Regions from separate parts of the Homo sapiens genome. Here region 1 is linked to region 2. The links come from fine-mapping of genetic effects on gene expression. Tissue or cell type: whole blood. Region 2 holds a variant in brackets; the other region holds the start of a gene. All regions are shown on one strand. Distances are between the middles of the regions. Region 1 holds the start of UTP18 (UTP18 small subunit processome component). Region 2 has its middle 19 kb from the start of LINC02072.

The links. PIP is the estimated chance that this variant, and not a neighbour inherited with it, causes the effect.
Region 1: UTP18 starts here. The variant in region 2 is fine-mapped to the expression of UTP18 in whole blood (INTERVAL, PIP above 0.99). The same link has a PIP of 0.9 or more in esophagus mucosa.

The regions. Positions count from the first base shown.
Region 1 is chr17:51,256,111-51,264,440 of GRCh38, forward strand. UTP18 (UTP18 small subunit processome component) reads left to right here and starts at 4,436. Exons shown (of 14, transcript NM_016001.3): 1 at 4,436-4,816; 2 at 7,164-7,276. The coding sequence starts at 4,475. MBTD1 (mbt domain containing 1) reads right to left here and starts at 3,939. Exons shown (of 17, transcript NM_017643.3): 1 at 3,725-3,939; 2 at 3,033-3,096. RefSeq lists silencers at 3,677-3,996, 4,337-4,446, 4,797-4,986 and an enhancer at 5,457-5,506.
Region 2 is chr17:51,351,288-51,359,616 of GRCh38, forward strand. No RefSeq gene overlaps it. Among named protein-coding and RNA genes, the nearest start is that of LINC02072, 19 kb to the left of the region's middle. The variant C/T (reference allele first, on the strand shown) is at 4,649.

The sequences.
Region 1 (8,330 bases), 95 kb before region 2:
AAAGAAGGAAAGCCTGGGAACACATCTTAACATTTTATCTTATGACTTGTCTCATCTTTTATAGCAGCTTACTTTTTTTAAACAGCGGGCATAACATCTGAGTGGAGGTTTACAGAAACTACAGGAGGCAGGGCTGATGTTCACCCTGTATTTCAGATGAGGAAAGTGAAGCTTTCAAAGAGGTTACACAACTCACCTAAGATCGCAGTTCAGAGAGGTAGCTTGCTGACTTTGTCCAGAGCTCACTTCTACTAGACTAAATTCTAAATTATCAGTGCTAAAGTGAGAACTCGAAGGGACCTCAGAAATCTCCTAATGGAGTGTTTCCCTAACCAACCTGATAAACTTTCTGGGGTATACATTAAAAACACATTCCCAGGACCCACTGCAGACCTACTAAATAAGTTATAGGAGAGAAGTTTAGTATTTTAACAAGAGCCTCCAAGAAGTGATTATAATGATTAGTTATGCTTAGAAAACAGTGTTCTATGTGTGTATGTCCAGTATGCCAGACATTTGGCTACTTAAATTTACATTGCCTAAAACAGCAAAATTAAAAATTGAGTTCTTCAATTTTTAGTTCCACTAGTTACATTTCAAGTGCTCAACAACCACATGTGGCTAGTGGCTACCGTAACTGGACAGCAAAGATATAGGAAATTTCCATCATTGCAGAAACTTCTATTGGATTATGCTGATACTAGACTAACCCTTCAACTGCCATGAGAAAATGGAGGCACAGGATCTTGTCCAACAAGGGCCATGGAGCTACTCAATGGCAGAATTGTGACATCAACCTCACTGCCAGCACCCCTCTTATTGTATCACTTCATCCTATCTCATATTCAGGGTTTGTTCAAATGGGAATTATTTCCTTTTCACCTTTTATTGTGGGTTCCAGCAAAGCAAGAAGAGAAATCCTAAATTTGCAGGTAAAAAAATCCTTAAGCCAAGGTTTATTAAAAAATAATGATTAAATCTATGTGCAATTTTTGCCTGAAATCAAAAGTCATCTTGCACAGTTAAGAATACTGTGGTGTTAGGAGAAATATCTTAGCTTGTTTTAACTATTGTAAGTCCTTTCTCTTTTATTGTCCTGATGTTTTTATTCTTTCTTGAATTTTGAAACCCTCAGACTAATGATACATAAGTGTGAAAGGTTATATCTTATTTAGCAAACATTTTAAAGATGAAAAGCTGAGAAACAAAGAGCAACCCAAAGAATGTCACTTGTCTAATTTTAGAATGTGGTTACTCAGACTACTGAGCACTCTTGGCTTTTAGTAATTCAGTGGTTTAGTATTTATCCTAATATGTTGTTTTCACTTTTAAACTATAGCTTATATTTTCCTTTGATCACTATGTTACATTTGAAAACAATTTAAAATGTTGTTTTAATTTTCAACATTATTGAGGGACCAAAAGCAGCACTAGAACATCTAGAAAGGTTTAGATAATAAGGTCAACATATAACCAGCTTTAAAGAATATGGCAGCGTCTTAAAAATAAAACCAGTTGTTCCTGTCTAGTATGTTTAGAATGCAGATGTCTCCAAAGTCAGTCAACTTAAGTCATGACAGTTCATGTTTAAAGTAAGCAGGAAAAAAACTTGGAACTCCTTATTAATTAAAATGTTAAAAACACTATTATTACACCTCTACTGATTCTTTTTCACAAGCTGAATTCTAATGAGTAGATTTAGAGGAAATATTTTATGTCAAACATTACATAAAGTTAGAAACTGGATGGTTAAAAAGCATGACGCAACAACGTAAGGCACTATGAATAAATACTTATTCAAGACAGATGTTGCCATAATTTGCAAGGTACTCACAAGCAATCAGTATGGGGTTTTAGATAGATAGAAGCTACTTGTTATTCAGAGAAGGAGGTGGTGCAAAAAAAAAAAAAAAGTACAGCTATTTTCTTTCTAAACACTCTGGTGTTGAGGTAAACAAATGAAAAATAAAATAACAGTCTAAGTCCACAAGAGCAAAGCAACAGTCTCTAAGTTATAAGAGGAGGAGAGAAAAATTGAGTCTAACCTTTTAAATAGGAGACTGGGGCTTAAGGTGAAATTTATTTGCTGGCTTTTAAATCACATGCATTATTTCTACATTATACCTGTTATGTCTTGACACCCACTTCACCACATTAGAGAGTAATAGGTATATCCAAGATTCTTAGGCCAATAAAACTACTTTTAGAGGCAGCATAGCTCACCAAATGAAGGAGAATGTTAGAAAAACACCCAGTGACAATAGTTTCAACTATCTCAACCACCCAGTGATAAGTACTGGTGCATGCTAATATAAGGAGAATTAAAAATATTGTAAACTCTAAACAAGTATTAAAATGGTTCGTAAATTTCAAATCTCATAAAAGATAGTTACTTAAAAAAAAAAAAGAAGGAGTAAAAGCATTTGGAAGAGAGGCCCTTGGAGGAAAGACTAGCTTCCGAGGAACACAGGTCAAATACGGGTGTGGGCGGTAATCATCTAATCATCCCTCTACCAGGTGATGCTTCTAACCACTTCAGTTTTAGACATCCTTAGAAGTGATTTAGGTAATAAACAAATGTGTTTTGTGATACAAGAACCACGGAGATGACGCTGAAATTTCTAACTTCAAAAAGATGCACTCCTAAGAGAAAACAGGCACGAAATTCCCATATTGTAATTCTTTAGCTTCCTGTAGAAAAACATCTTCAGGCATGTAAGCCAGCACACTTGACACTGACCCAGCAAAGTTTTCGGCTAGCCCTCACTATCTCTCAACCCCCCTTCCTCCACTTCCCTGCTGTTCTTTCTTGGCACACAAAATATAGGCCAATGAGCAGTGGGTGGGTGAGGAGGATGTGAGAGAAAATTTGAGAAGTAAAAAAAGGAGCAACTTAACCAGGACATGAATGAGACTGAAGGGTCTAATAAGGGTAGGCAGACAACAATTAGAACTACTGAAATATGGGCTTTCCTGGGCAGTAGTGAGCTCTCAGTGCTTTTAGGGGTGTAAGCAGGGTTCAGACTACCTACCACTTGTCAGAGAGGCTGCAGAGGGGACGGCTGCTTTGGATGACCTCTAATGTCTCTTCCGACTCTGAAATGTTAGGATTCTTATTTCACAAAGGAGAACGCAATGGTCACAGAAGTCCACCGACTTGAAACCCTTTTAAATATGCAGCCTTGGAGGCTGCTTCCCAAACACCACTCCCACCTCTCCCGCACGTGCCCACCCCGCCCCCTTTCAATATTTCCACCTCCACGTGCAAACCGCCTCGCGGCACTGCCCCCAAGGCAGATAGACACCTTCCCCTGCAAAGCAACGAAACTGTGCTCCCCCTCCCCGCCAAGAAGAGAGGACTACTCCACTCTCCCACCCTGGGTGGCTAAAAAAGGAAAAGTCTCGGATCCAGCCTTTCCCCCCTAGCCAGAGCAGGGGGCGGGGGCAGGACGCAGAGAAAAACTTTCTTCTCGAATTTTTCTTCCAAAGGGTGGAGGAGATGGAGAGAACCCCAACGAGTCCAAGGCTGACGGGGTGGGGGGAGGGGAACCCCTGAATCGTTTAACGGCTGGAAGGGGGAGGGGGGCTCCGGAGGTTGAGAGGGCGTGGGATGGAGAAGCAGGCCAGGGAGCGGGGTCAGGGAGCTGCGGGGTTCCTGGGGTCGGAGAGCTGCAGGCGTCCCCCCCACCTGGCACACAAAGCGGCTGCCGCGCTCGGCTCTCACCAGATCCTTTGTGTTTTCCATCAGGGCCTCATGGGTAGGGGTTGTCCGTGCTCCCCGAGCCCGCGGCGCCCCCTCCCCGGGCTGGGGGCAGGTGCCTCTCCCCGGGACTGCGGCGACTACAGGGGGCCCCCGGCTGGGCCCAGACCGGTGGCGGGTGCAGCAGCCCCCGGATTTCCCCCCTTTAACTCGGGTGGCCCCAGGATATCAACAACATTAGCATAGCCCTCCCTCCCCAGCGCGCCTGCGCCGTGACCCGCGCCCCGATTGGCCCACTTCCCTACATACCCTCCTCTCTCGCTTCCACCGTGGGACCCTCTGCAGGCTCCGTACTCCAAGGACCGTACCAAGACGAAGGGTGGAAAGCGTATTGGGGCTTGTGTCAAGTCAAGTGGTTACAGCCAAGAGGAAAAGCAGAAGTTCCATTCAGCCGTCCCAGTGTATAGTCGGGGTTTCTTGCGCTCCTTTCAATATGTTGCAGCTGCGAAATTGTGTTGGAAAAATTTTCCACTCCAGTCACGCCGCTTCCCCCTACACCCGGAAGATTGGCCCTCCCGGAGGAACTCCCACACGGGGCGGGGCTGGGTAGGGGAGCGGGAGTTACGTAGAGGGAGGGAGTGCTGGTCACGTGGCAAGAGGCTGCGCAGGCTCCTTCCGGCCCCCGGGGCTTCGGCGGCGGCGGCCCGCGAGGGGCCTGGGCGCATGCGCAGCGAGGTTCCACGTGAGCGCCTGCGTTTCTCCTCAAACCTAACGATGCCGCCGGAGCGGAGGAGACGAATGAAACTGGACCGGAGAACCGGAGCGAAGCCGAAGCGGAAGCCCGGAATGAGGCCGGACTGGAAAGCCGGAGCGGGGCCAGGCGGGCCTCCCCAAAAGCCTGCCCCTTCATCCCAGCGGAAACCGCCGGCCCGGCCGAGCGCGGCGGCCGCTGCGATTGCAGTCGCGGCGGCGGAGGAAGAGAGACGGCTCCGGCAGCGGAACCGCCTGAGGCTGGAGGAGGACAAACCGGCCGTGGAGCGGTGCTTGGAGGAGCTGGTCTTCGGCGACGTCGAGAACGACGAGGACGCGTTGCTGCGGCGTCTGCGAGGCCCGAGGGTGAGGGAGGCCGCGGCGCGCGGGCTGGGCGCACTCGGGCGGGGCGCGCGGTGGGCGGTGAAGCTCCGGGGGGCGGAGCCTGGGCGACCTGCGGCGGCGGGGAGCGCTCAGGTGGGAGGGAGCCCGAGAACGCGGGCGCGGAGGGTCGCAGCTGCGGGTCCCTCGCCTCCCTGCTCCAGACTGAAAGTGCCTGGAGGGCGGGGACCGCGTCTTTCTCCGCCCCTGGAGGCGCCGCTGCTCGGGTATCTGCTTTGCGAACTGTGGTCGTGAGCATCTTTCGCTGCTGCTCGACTCCGCTAGCCTCTTCCCAAACTGAGGGTGGTCTTTTGATCACCTGCCTCAGTTCCTTGTGATTCAGGAATTCGATTTCGTTGATGGAATCAATTCGTGGGCACGGGCCTGGGCATCTCCGTTGTAACTATGTCCCCATGTGACTATGAGACCCACCATGTTTTGAGAATGATCGTGTATTCCGTTCATTTAGCAAATATTGGTGAACCTGTTAGTTGCCAGATACCCTTTCTGGCAATGGCAAACCCTGCGTGATTGATCATACTTTTTGCACACATTTTGCTATCCCTTTAAATTCTATACCAGGCTTTTCTTGAGAGAGTCCCGGACATTGTTCTAGGCACTGGAGGAGACACAGCAATGGACAAAACTGACAAAAATCCCTGCCTTTTGGCGCTTGTGTGCTAGTGGCAGAGACAAGATAGAGGAGATAAACGAGTAAACTTCAGGTTTGTTGGTGACAAGTGCTGAAGAGAAAAAAGGACATTCGGGAAAGGGAGATGGGCGTGTGTAGAGGCCTGTGAAATTTTAGATAAAGGGGGCAGAGGAAAGCTCACCGAGAATTACCCAGGCCATGTTTATTACACAAATGCTGACCTAGTTAATGTCAGCTGCTTACCAGAGCCGCCTTCGGGTGCTTGTAGGAGAAGTGGCAGCAATCTTTTTGGGAAGTACAGAACTATTACTGGAAACATGCTGAACTGTGCGACGGTTTTGTCGTCTGGAAAAGGAACAGTGTACGGAGGTGGGAGCTGTTGGGTTTGAAGGCTATTAGACTAGTAGTAGAGCAAGTAGAAACCACTTGGACATTTCTATCATTGGTTTTGGGAAGCTCAAACTCACTTCAAGGGATATTCTGTGGTCTAGGTTTAGATTTTTTTTTTTTTTTAGACTCGCCCTGTCGCCCAGGCTGGAGTGCAGTGGCGCCATCTCGGCTCACTGCAACCTCCACTTCCTGGGTTCAAGCGATTCTCCTGCCTCAGCCTCTGGAGTAGCTGGCATTACAGGCGTGCGCCACCACGCCTGGCTAATTTTTTTTTGTATCTTTAGTAGAAACGGGGTTTCACCATCTTCGCCAGGCTGGTCTCAAACTCCTGACCTCGTGATCCGCCCGCCTCGGCCTCCCAAAGTGCTGAGACTACAAGTGTGAGCCACCGCACCCGGCCTAGGTTTAGATTTGATAGTATAAACTTTATGGTATAAATTTATAACTTTAGAATTTAGATTTAATGGTATATTTATTTTTTACTTATTTAGAGATACGGTCTAACTTTGTCACCCAGACTGGAGTGTAGCGGCACCTATTAGTCTTCCATCTCCCTTTTGCTAATAGTAACTGGTTGCTCTTCTTGTTGGTCACAGATAAATTACACCTGCACAATTCTCCGAACACTTTAAACTCAGAAGTCAGCTTCATCCTCCTAGGCTCAAGTGATCCTCCTGCCTCTGCCTCCCAAGTAGTTAGCTGGGGCCACAGGTGCACACCACACACCCAGCTAAATTTAAAAATTTTCTGTAGAGACGAGATCTCCCTATGTTGCCCAGGCTGGACTCGAACTCCTGGGCCCAAGCAGTCCTCCCACCTTGACCTCCCAAAGTGTTGGGATTACAGGCATGAGGCATTGCGCTCTCTGCTGGTATAAAGTTTCTTAAGGAGGTAGGGGGTCAAAAACAGATTGGGAAAATGGAGATATCTTTGACTCTAGTTTGCCTCCGGTCCTGTAATTTCTGTAGTTCTGACATTTCTCCTCCTTTTTTCATCTGCAGACTCATCTTTTGTTCTTGTCTTACTTGGTGTTTTCCTTCCTGCGTGTTGAGTGTTGACTTTTTCTCCTTGACTGTTCCATCTTGCCTCACCTGTCCAGTCGGTGCCATTCTCTGATTTCTCCATTTTCTGCCTCTGCTTCCAGCATTTGCAATGGTAGCATTCCATCCCATTATTTCATCAGAGAGTGGTAGAAAAAACATTCTATGAGCCATTTGGCTGTAAGGCCTATGTGTCTGCAGTCATGGGATAGGAAAATCTCAGTGCTTGAGGGTGTTTTGTCTGCTGTAGGTTCAAGAACATGAAGACTCGGGTGACTCAGAAGTGGAGAATGAAGCAAAAGGTAATTTTCCACCTCAAAAGAAGCCAGTTTGGGTGGATGAAGAAGATGAAGATGAGGAAATGTAAGTTGCCTAACTTTTCTTCTGAATCCCTCTGTACACTTAAAAAAGTTATTTTGCAGATTTTAAAATCATTCTTTTTACCAATTTGTGATTATGTGAAGATTTGAAAAATATTTGAAAGTATAGAAAAGATCTTTCATGGTTCCTGATCCCACCACCGAGGGAGAACTGCTGTTAGCATGTTGTCACACTTCTGTCTCAGTCTCCTCTTTGCTGTATACAGTAGCTAAGAGAATACAGTGTTTGAAGTCAGATCTCGATTTGCCTCCTCTTTTGGCCAGTTTCTAATTGACCATGGGCAGTTTGGAACCTACATTTTTTCCTTTGTGAAATGGGCACAATGATAGTAACTACATCAGAATTTTGTTGGGATTAAACAAAATAGTACTTGTAGAACTTTTAGCACAGTGCCTGAAACTGAGTAAAGGCTAAAAAGAAGGTAGCTCACACCATAGGAACTGTCATGGATGAGAATGTACTGTATGCTTGATTTAACATTTTGACTTTTTCTACATAAAGTTACTTTGTAAACATTTCTCCCTACTTAAAAAAAATAGACATTTTAAAATGGCTATGTTGGAGTCAATTATGTGAATTAACCATAATTTACGTGGCTATTGTTGGGTAGATTTTCTTTTTCCCTTTTTTTTTTTTTAATTATTTTTTTTGAAACAGAGTCTTGCTGTTTCACCTAGGCTGGAGTGCAGTGGTGCGATCTTGGTTCACTGCAACCTCTGCCTCCTGGGTTCAAGCGATTCTCCTGCCTCAGCCTCCCGAGTAGCTGTGACTACAGGCGTGTGCCACCACACCTGGCTAATTTTTGTATTTTTAGTAGAGACAGAGTTAGACGGAGTTTTGCTACGTTGGCCAGGCTGGTCTTGAACTCCTGACCTCAAGTATACACCCGTCTCTGCCTCCCAAAGTGCTGAGATTACAGGCGTGAACTGCTGTGCCCAGCCTTATTTTTCCCTTTAATGCAGATTATTTCAGCATTAATGTTTATCACCTCTTTATGTATAAACCTTTCTTTATTTTCTAATTTATTGCCTTAAGA
Region 2 (8,329 bases):
TCCCAGAGATCAAATAGTGAGCGTGTGCTTCATTCCACATGCCCCTTGTCTTGGGGATGGGTGCTTTAAGCCTGGGGCTTGACCAGGGCACTTGCGATGCTCACGGGACTGCATAGGAAACTTGGTGCAATAGACTGTGGTATTAAAGAGCTTTTGGTCCTTGGGGCTGAGGTCGGAGTTAGCACTTTCCACGTGGCTGTTGAAGTTAATTTATGGAAGGCTTTCCTTGACGTATATCCTATGGAATGTTAAATAGGTATTGATTGAAGAAGTAGTCAAATGGGTTGGAGAAACTCATGTTCTTTGCTGCAGGACTTCTCAAGGTCTTTAAATGGTTAATGAGCTGTATGACTTGTCAAGAGGAGGATATAGCTATGTGGTTATTTCCCAAATTTATTTGGTCTTAGAACTCTGTTTTTAATGGAGCATCTCCCAAGGTGAGTGATCTGCTGAAAAGGATGTTATCATATTGGAAAGGGGAAGAATTCGATCTCCTCCACTCTCCCCTCCTCCCCTTCCCTGCCCCTTCCTTCCTTTCCCGTGATATGATACAAGATTTTTGTTCTGGGGGATGTCCTCTTTTCATTCATAAAATGAGGTTTTGTGAGGCAGCGTGGTCTGATGGAAAAATCATAAGCGCTCCCACCTCAAGGATGTTGAAAGTGCTCCTCCCTCTCCCTGTAGGAGCTTCCATCTCATCCCCTTCCCCAAGCTAACTCCTGCTTATTCATTTTCCTGGGCTCAGCTTAAACATCACATTCTTGAAAAAGCTTTTCCTTGGCCTTGGCTCAGGGAATATCTGGGACCGCAGCCCAGTTCAGCTGCTTACTAGCTGCCTGAACTCACTGGTTCAGTTGTCAACATAAGATTGCAAGAGAACTCATGCATATATTTTTGTGTATTCCTGGTGCTTGTATTTGAAGTCCAAGAAGAGGATTTTGATTATTTGTTACTTGTGGGATGATGGCAAGGTTAGGAGTGTTGAAAAAACCAGTTTGTAAGAAGAGCTCTTGCCTGGGTGTGGTGGCTCAAGCCTGTAATCCCAGCACTTTGGGAGGCCAAGGTGGGAGTATTGCTTGAGCCCAGGAGTTTGAGACCAGCCTGGGCAACATAGCTAGACCTCATCTCTACTAAAAATAAAAAAATTAGCCAGGCATATTGGTGCACACCTGTAGTCCCAGCTACTTGGGAGGCTGAGGTGGGAGGATTGCTTGAGCCCAGGGATTTGAGGCTACGGTGAGCCAAGATTGCACCACTGCACTCCAGCCTGGGTGATAGAGTGAGATGCTGCCTCAAAAAAAAAAAAAAAAAAAAAAAAAAAGAGTTCTTGGCCTGAGTGTAGATGGGGTCTTCACTGAGTCCGGTGCTGTATGTAGCTCTGCCTGTACGGCAGCCTCTGCTGCGCTCTGTGGTGGAGGAAAGGAGCACCAAAATGCGAGTTGGGAGCCCAGGGTTCCAGGCTAAATTTCGATTCTACTCCCAAGGCCTGAGGTATGCAGTTATACAAGTGATTGTGCTGTAACATGCTGATCTCTAGAAGTAATTTATTTCTATTTGTGTCATCTCCCCACAAATGCTATTGTGAGAACTGCTGCCATCTTGGTTGTTAATATGTGACTGGGAGTCAAAATGAACAGGTACAACACCAGTGACCATCCCTGCAGCACCAGAAGGCTTATGAATCATGTCTCAGAGCAGCTCTGTGGGCTCGTTGTCTCAGGAGATGCCAAACCACAGCCCTTCTATTCATTCTCTCATTAGTTCAACAGACACTGATTGAGCCTGACCCTGAGCCAGCCTCCATCAGTGCAGGGTGTGGGGGATATAGAATGAATAAGACAGTGTCCTTAACTCAAAGGGATCATCCTCAGTTTCTCCAAACCAGAGGTGCCAACCTTCCCACTGCTGTGTCTCTAGTCTGCAGTCAGGTACAATCCAACTTCTTGAATCCATTCACTTTGCATAGTGGCAGCCATTCCTCTCATTCATCAGTGTTGCCTCTTGCTTCAGGGGTCCAGCCTTTTAGTTTACAGGTCAAGAATTTTAGGGGGATCTTTCTCCTCCTCTCTGCCGACCCCCACCTTGGCCCATGGGGGTGAGAACTTCTGCTTTTACATCTCCCCGCTCAGGGAAGGACTGCCGTGTAAGCTCTGTTCCTCTCTCTGCCCTCCTGTTTCTCTTCATTAGAGGACTGGTTGAGTCATGTTTTGCTGCTGGGCAGGGTTTCTGGTGCCTCAGCAGTGGGAAAGAGGCTCCACTTTATCTTTCTGAGCTGTTTGCCCCAGGACTCAAAGACCTTTGTTCTCACTCCAAGCCTGGCCAGGTGGGGCATCCTCATGGTCTGGTGGGTTCCAAGGTCTAGACCTGGGGCAGGAGTCAGAGGCGTCCACTTTGGCCTGAGTCTAATCTGTGTTTGCCATTCCAGCTTTGTCAGAGGGCTCTACTTTGGGTGGTTTGGGGGTATAAAACTGGCCATTAATAAATCTGAAACTCTAATTCCCCTTGTTGTCTTTGTTAGCTGGTCAGCGAGAGGGGAAGAAGGGTTGGTGCCCGCGTTCTGGCTCCAGCCCTATCCCAGACCTCTAAACTTCAAAGCAGAGATGGTGAGGGACATGCTCAAGGTCCTGAGGACTCTTGGAAGATGTGGGACTTGAATTCATGTCTCCTGACTCTTGGCGCAGTGCTCTTCTCCCGTATCTGTCTCTCCTCAAATGGACAGAACTCACCAGTTGGCTCTCTGCTTGTTGAAAAGAGGGTATGGCTGTGTAGATGCCATGATAAAAATATGGAATCTGGACCCAGAGAAAATTGGGTTTCAACATTTTACATTTTCCCCTACATCTTAATTCCCTCATCTGGAAACAGGGTTAATAAGGGTATTTTCCTCAGTGTTATGACAAGCATGAAAGAATCCACATACCATGCACAACACGGTGTCTGAAACCGAGCAATTGCTCCATAAATGTTAACTATTTTCATGTCATATCAAATGAAACTTCCAGCTAGAAAAATTTTTCCCAAGAAGAGGAAAACAGTATCCAGCCAATGTAAAGTAGCAGGGCGTTTTCTTAATGAACAGTGTATCAGCTAAGTTTTTGAGGAGCAGTAATTCCTGTCTGGAATTTACCTGGGTATTGTAACTCTTCCCTACTGGCCATGTAGCCCAGGCTGAATGCTCTCAGTATATACATCTAGAACACCACAGGCGCCAATATCTATAAATAGGGAGGAAGCCATAAATGAGAGCTCATTAAGTTCTTACTGACTGCTGAAAAGTAAATTAGAAAAAATAAACAGAGCTGAACATTTGTGTAAACCTCAATCTTTTTGATGTTTTTCAATTAGCAGAGCCATTTTTCATGTGAAAAATTAATGGCTGTCATGTGCCACCTGGCTTATAGAATCAAGTGACAATTTGTTTTAATGACCATTTTCTACCTCTGGATTCAGGTGGACATGACCAGTTACAGGCCATTGGCGATGGGAGGAGGCAAAGGGGAGTGGGCCTTTAGGGAGCACTGCCCCCATGCCAGGCACAGTGCCAGGCTTGCAATGCACGTCCTTCCCTGAATTTCCTCCATGGCCCAATGAGGCTGTTGTTATCCTCATTTTATACATGTGGTTCTGAGAGGTGAAGAAATTGCCCAAGGTCACACATAGATGTTCAGGGCAGTCTGATTCTATAATTTGTGTCTATTCCACCAAATCACATTCTGCAGAGGGAGAAAGATTTGGCAGGAAGGAGGGAGGTGCCTGCTGATCTCTGGCAGGCAGCCTGCAACAAGGGTGGGACTGAACCAAGTGGTGGGGGTTGACATGGGCAGAGTCCAGCAACAGGGATCCTGGTGTGGGAGATGCTTAGGGTTCTGTCAGCGCAGAGGTCTCTCTTTGAATAGCAAAGCATTTGTCATCAGACTAGGGCTCAGAGTAGAAGTCCAGTCTCTGGGAGGGAGACTGAGAGTAAGGCAGGAGCCAGGCAGGATGTCTGTTTCAGAAGGGACCCGAGTTAGCAGTTGCTCAGTAAGACCACTGCATAGTTGATGAGGCCAAGAAACTAGAGGCAGACACCACGTCAAAGGCCACCTGTAATGCTGGAGCCACCTCATTAGAGTTGGCACAGTAGCAAGGAAGACTGAGGCAGAGCTGACACATTCTGTCTGGAGCTGCCTTTTGGAGGGAAGTGAGGGGAAGAAACTGCATGTGGAGTCAGAAGCCTCAGCTGTGGGCAGGGCTGGAGCAGCGGAGCAGGCCTGAGAGCCAGGCAGGGGCTGATGACCGTGATGACAGCTTTCACGGATTGTGGGATGGGCCCTTTTATGCATAATCTTTAATCCTGAAATAACTTCAGGGGATAGGCACTACTATCTCTTTTTGTATATGGGGAAGTGGAAGTTCAGAGAGACAGAGGGGTGAGGTCCTTTGCTTACAGGCACACAGTGGCCATCTGGCAAAGCAGAAATGAAAACCCAAAGATCTGTGCATGTTCCTCCCGCTCCCATACTGCCTCCCTGCCATCCCTAATTCAAAACAGATGATTACTTTCTCCATCCACTGCTTCTTCCCTGCCCTGCCTGTAACTGACCAGCGCCAGTCTGCAGAAACAGCAGCAGCCTTGGATTTAATTTTCTGGGCATTATAACCGACACTG[C/T]GGAGAACATCTCGGCTCTAGGGACAAATCTGTCTGATGACAGTGCACACGTGAGCTCCTTCCTAGACTGAGGGTGGAGCCGCTGGACCTGACAGTTGCAGCTTATTCTCCCTTTTGGTAATAATGCACGACTAGGCAAGAGAGGAAAAAACCTGCCGAGTAATTCTTTAATTTTAAAGAGTATTTCTCCAAGGCGCAGGAATCAATCAGCCCTTGGGATCCGAGCTTCTGTTCCAGGGGAGGGCGACTTAGGAACAGCTCTGCCTCCCTCAGGCAGGGTAGGGACTCAGTGACCTCAGAAAGATTTCTCGCAGCCGCAGGCTCCTCTTAGGAGTTTTGCTGATTGGTTTGGACTTTACTTTGAACGTGGCAGTAGATAGAAGTGTTAAGATTTTTCATAAGTCTGTCTTTCCATTTTCTTTCCTCTTCTAATTCCTGAGGTTCATAATTATTCTGTTCACCCTTTTGTAGTTGGATAACTGATTTTTGTTGTTGCTGTTGTTGTTGTTGCTATTTCTTTGGGCAGTTTGAATATTCTTCAATGTACATTCCTAGAAGCCTTCCAGAAGCCACGTTCTTCTTCTGGGCAATTCTAGGGAGATGGTGTTTGTTCCAGCCCTGGCCTTGCTGATTGACTGTTTAAAATTTACTCTCCCTGTCTCTGTTCCTCTCTCTTTACAGCATTATTTATCTACCAGTTCATCTACCCACCAATAGTCAATTTATCTATGTAACTATCCATTTGTTCCTCCATGCATGTCATGGTCCTGAATTAGCAAAGATTATGATGCTCGGCTAAGGGACAGCCCTTATAGACTACTCACACTTTCCTATAGCCATAGAAAGCAAAGAGAGTTAAATAAAAAATGAAAAATGCAATTAATCTCAAACCTTGTTGGAATTTATCATTTTTCTAAATGCCCTAAAAGGTTCTCTTCTTTTCTGTGTTGCAGACAGAACAGAAAGAAAATCAGACTTATGTCGATGGGGGTTTTAGACCTTATATCCACAGGTCAGATTTGTAAGGTTGAAGAAAGGAGGTGGGCACCCAAGGGTGAGGACAGCTGCTCACTGATCTCTCCTGATTGCCCACAGGGTAGGTCTTGCACTCTAGATCCCAGGTGAGGGTTTGGGAATCATTGCTTGTCCTTGATCACTTTGTTCTACAGCATCACCCCGAGACATCCATTCACAACTCTGAGATAAGTAACCTTGGAATGGGGAAGTTCTGGTACCTCTTCCAGATGCCTATCTGCTTTCCTTTTATTTTTTCAGAATTAATCCACTTTAATTTTTAAACTTTTTTTTTTTTTTTTTTTTAGGTAGAGTCTCACTCTGTCTCCCAGGTTGGAGTGCAGTGGCGTGATCTCGGCTCACTGCAACCTCTGCCTCCCAGGTTCAAGCCATTCTCCTGCCTCAGCCTCCCGAGTAGCTTAGACTACAGGTGCGCACCACCGTGCCCAGCTAATTTTTGTATTTTTAGTAGAGACAGGGTTTCACTATGTTGGCCAGGCTGGTCTTGAACTCCTGACCTTCAGTGATCCTCCCACCTTAGCCTCCCAAAGAGCTGGGATTACAGGCGTGAGCCACCATGCCTGGCTAATTTGTAAACTTTTAATTGATGAATAATAATCATATATATTTATGGGGTACAATGTGATGTTTCCATACATGTAGGCATTGTAGAATTGATCAAATCAGGCTAATGAACATATCCATCACCTCAATACTTATCTTTTTTTTTGTGATGAGGACTTCTAAAATCTACTCTATGAGTTCAGCTTTTGAAGATTCCATACATGACTGGGCGTGGTGGGTCATGCCTGTAATCCCAGCACTTTGGGAGGCCGAGGCGGGTGGATCACTTGAGGTCAGGAGTTCGAGACCAGCCTGACCAATATGGTGAAACCCCATCTCTACTAAAAATACAAAAATTAGCTGGGTGTGGTGGCAGGTGCCTGTAGTCTCAGCTACCTGGGAGGCTGAGACAGAAGAACTGCTTGAACCCGGGAGTTGGAGGTTGCAATGAGCCGAGATCACGCCACTGCACTCCAGCCTGGGTGACAGAGTGAGACTCCATCTCAAAGAAAAAAAAAAAAGATTCCATATATATGTGAGATCATGTGTAGTATTTGTCTTTCTGAGCCTGGCTTATATCACTGAGCATAGTGTCCTCTAGATTCATCCATGTTGTTGCAAGTGACAGAATTTTCTTCTTTTTCAAGGCTGAATATATTCTGTTGTATATATAGACACCACATTTAAAAAATCAATTTATTCATTGACAGGCACTTAGGTTGTTTCCAGATCTTGGCTATTGTGAATGATGTGGCAATGAACATGGGATGCAGACATCTCCTTGACATACTGATCTCAATTCCTTTGAATAGAAACCCGGAAGTGGGATTGGTGGATCATATGGTAGTTCTGTTTTCAATTTTGTGAGGAACTGCCATATTGTTTTCCACAATGGCTGTGCTCATTTCCATTCCCACCAATGATGTATAGGAATTCCCCTCTCTTCAAATCTTTGGCAGCATTTGTTATCTTTTGATAATAGCCATTCTAACTGGGGTGAAGTGATATCTTATTGTGGCCTTGATTTGCATGTCCCTAATGACTGGCGATGTTGGGCATTTTTTCATCTATCTGTTGGCCATTTATACAGCCTCTCAAGAAATGGCTATTCAGGTCTTTTGCCAATTTTAAAATAGAGTGGGCCAGGTGTGGTGGCTCATGCCTGTTATCCCTGCACTTTGGGAGGCCGAGGTGGCTGGATTGCTTGAGCCCAGGAGTTTGAGACCAGCCTGGGCAAACTGATGAAGTCCTATCTTTATCAAAAACAAAAACAAAAAATTAGCTGAGTATGGTGGCATGCACCTGTCCCTGCTTAAGATTAAGTAGTCCCAGCTACTCAGGAGGCTGAGGTGGGAGGATCGCTTGAGCCCGGGAGGTGGATGTTGCAGTGAGCCAAGATCATGCCACTGCACTCCATCCTGGGCAACAGAGTGAGAGCTTGTCTCAAAAATGAAACAAACAAAAAAAGAATTATTCGTTTTCCTGTTACTGAGTAGTTTGAGTTTCTTATGTATTTTGGGTATTAGCGCCTTATCTGATGCATGATTTGCAAATATTTTCTCCCAATCTGTAGGTTGTCTCTTCACCTGTTGTTTCCTTTGCTGTGCAGAAGCGTTTTAGTTTGATGCAATCCCGTTAGTCTATTTTTGCTTTTGTTGCCAGTGTTTGTGAGGTGAATGATATCCACGGAATACTTTCCCAGACCAATGGGGTAGAGCTTTTCCTGTTTTCTTCTAGTAGTTTTACAGTTCCTTATTCACCTTTCTTCACGGCCATTCACAAAAAAGCCAGGACAAGCTGCTGGTGCTCCAAGGCTATAGTTTCTCTGCTTCTCTTTGTTCTCCTAGGATATTCTGAGTTGAATAACATAGTGTTACTTCATCCTTCTATTTCCATCAACATGTGAGACTAGCTTTTATACAATGGCTATTTTAAAAACTTCTTAGATATTTGAACTCTATTTCAAGCAGTTCTGCTGAATTTAGAGTCCCATATTGACAATTTTTTGATAGTATAATATCAAAAAATGAAGCTTTATCTTGCCATTTTCTGCAGCAAAAAGAAAAAGTATATATCTTTTGTAAATATACTGTCTAAAGTTGT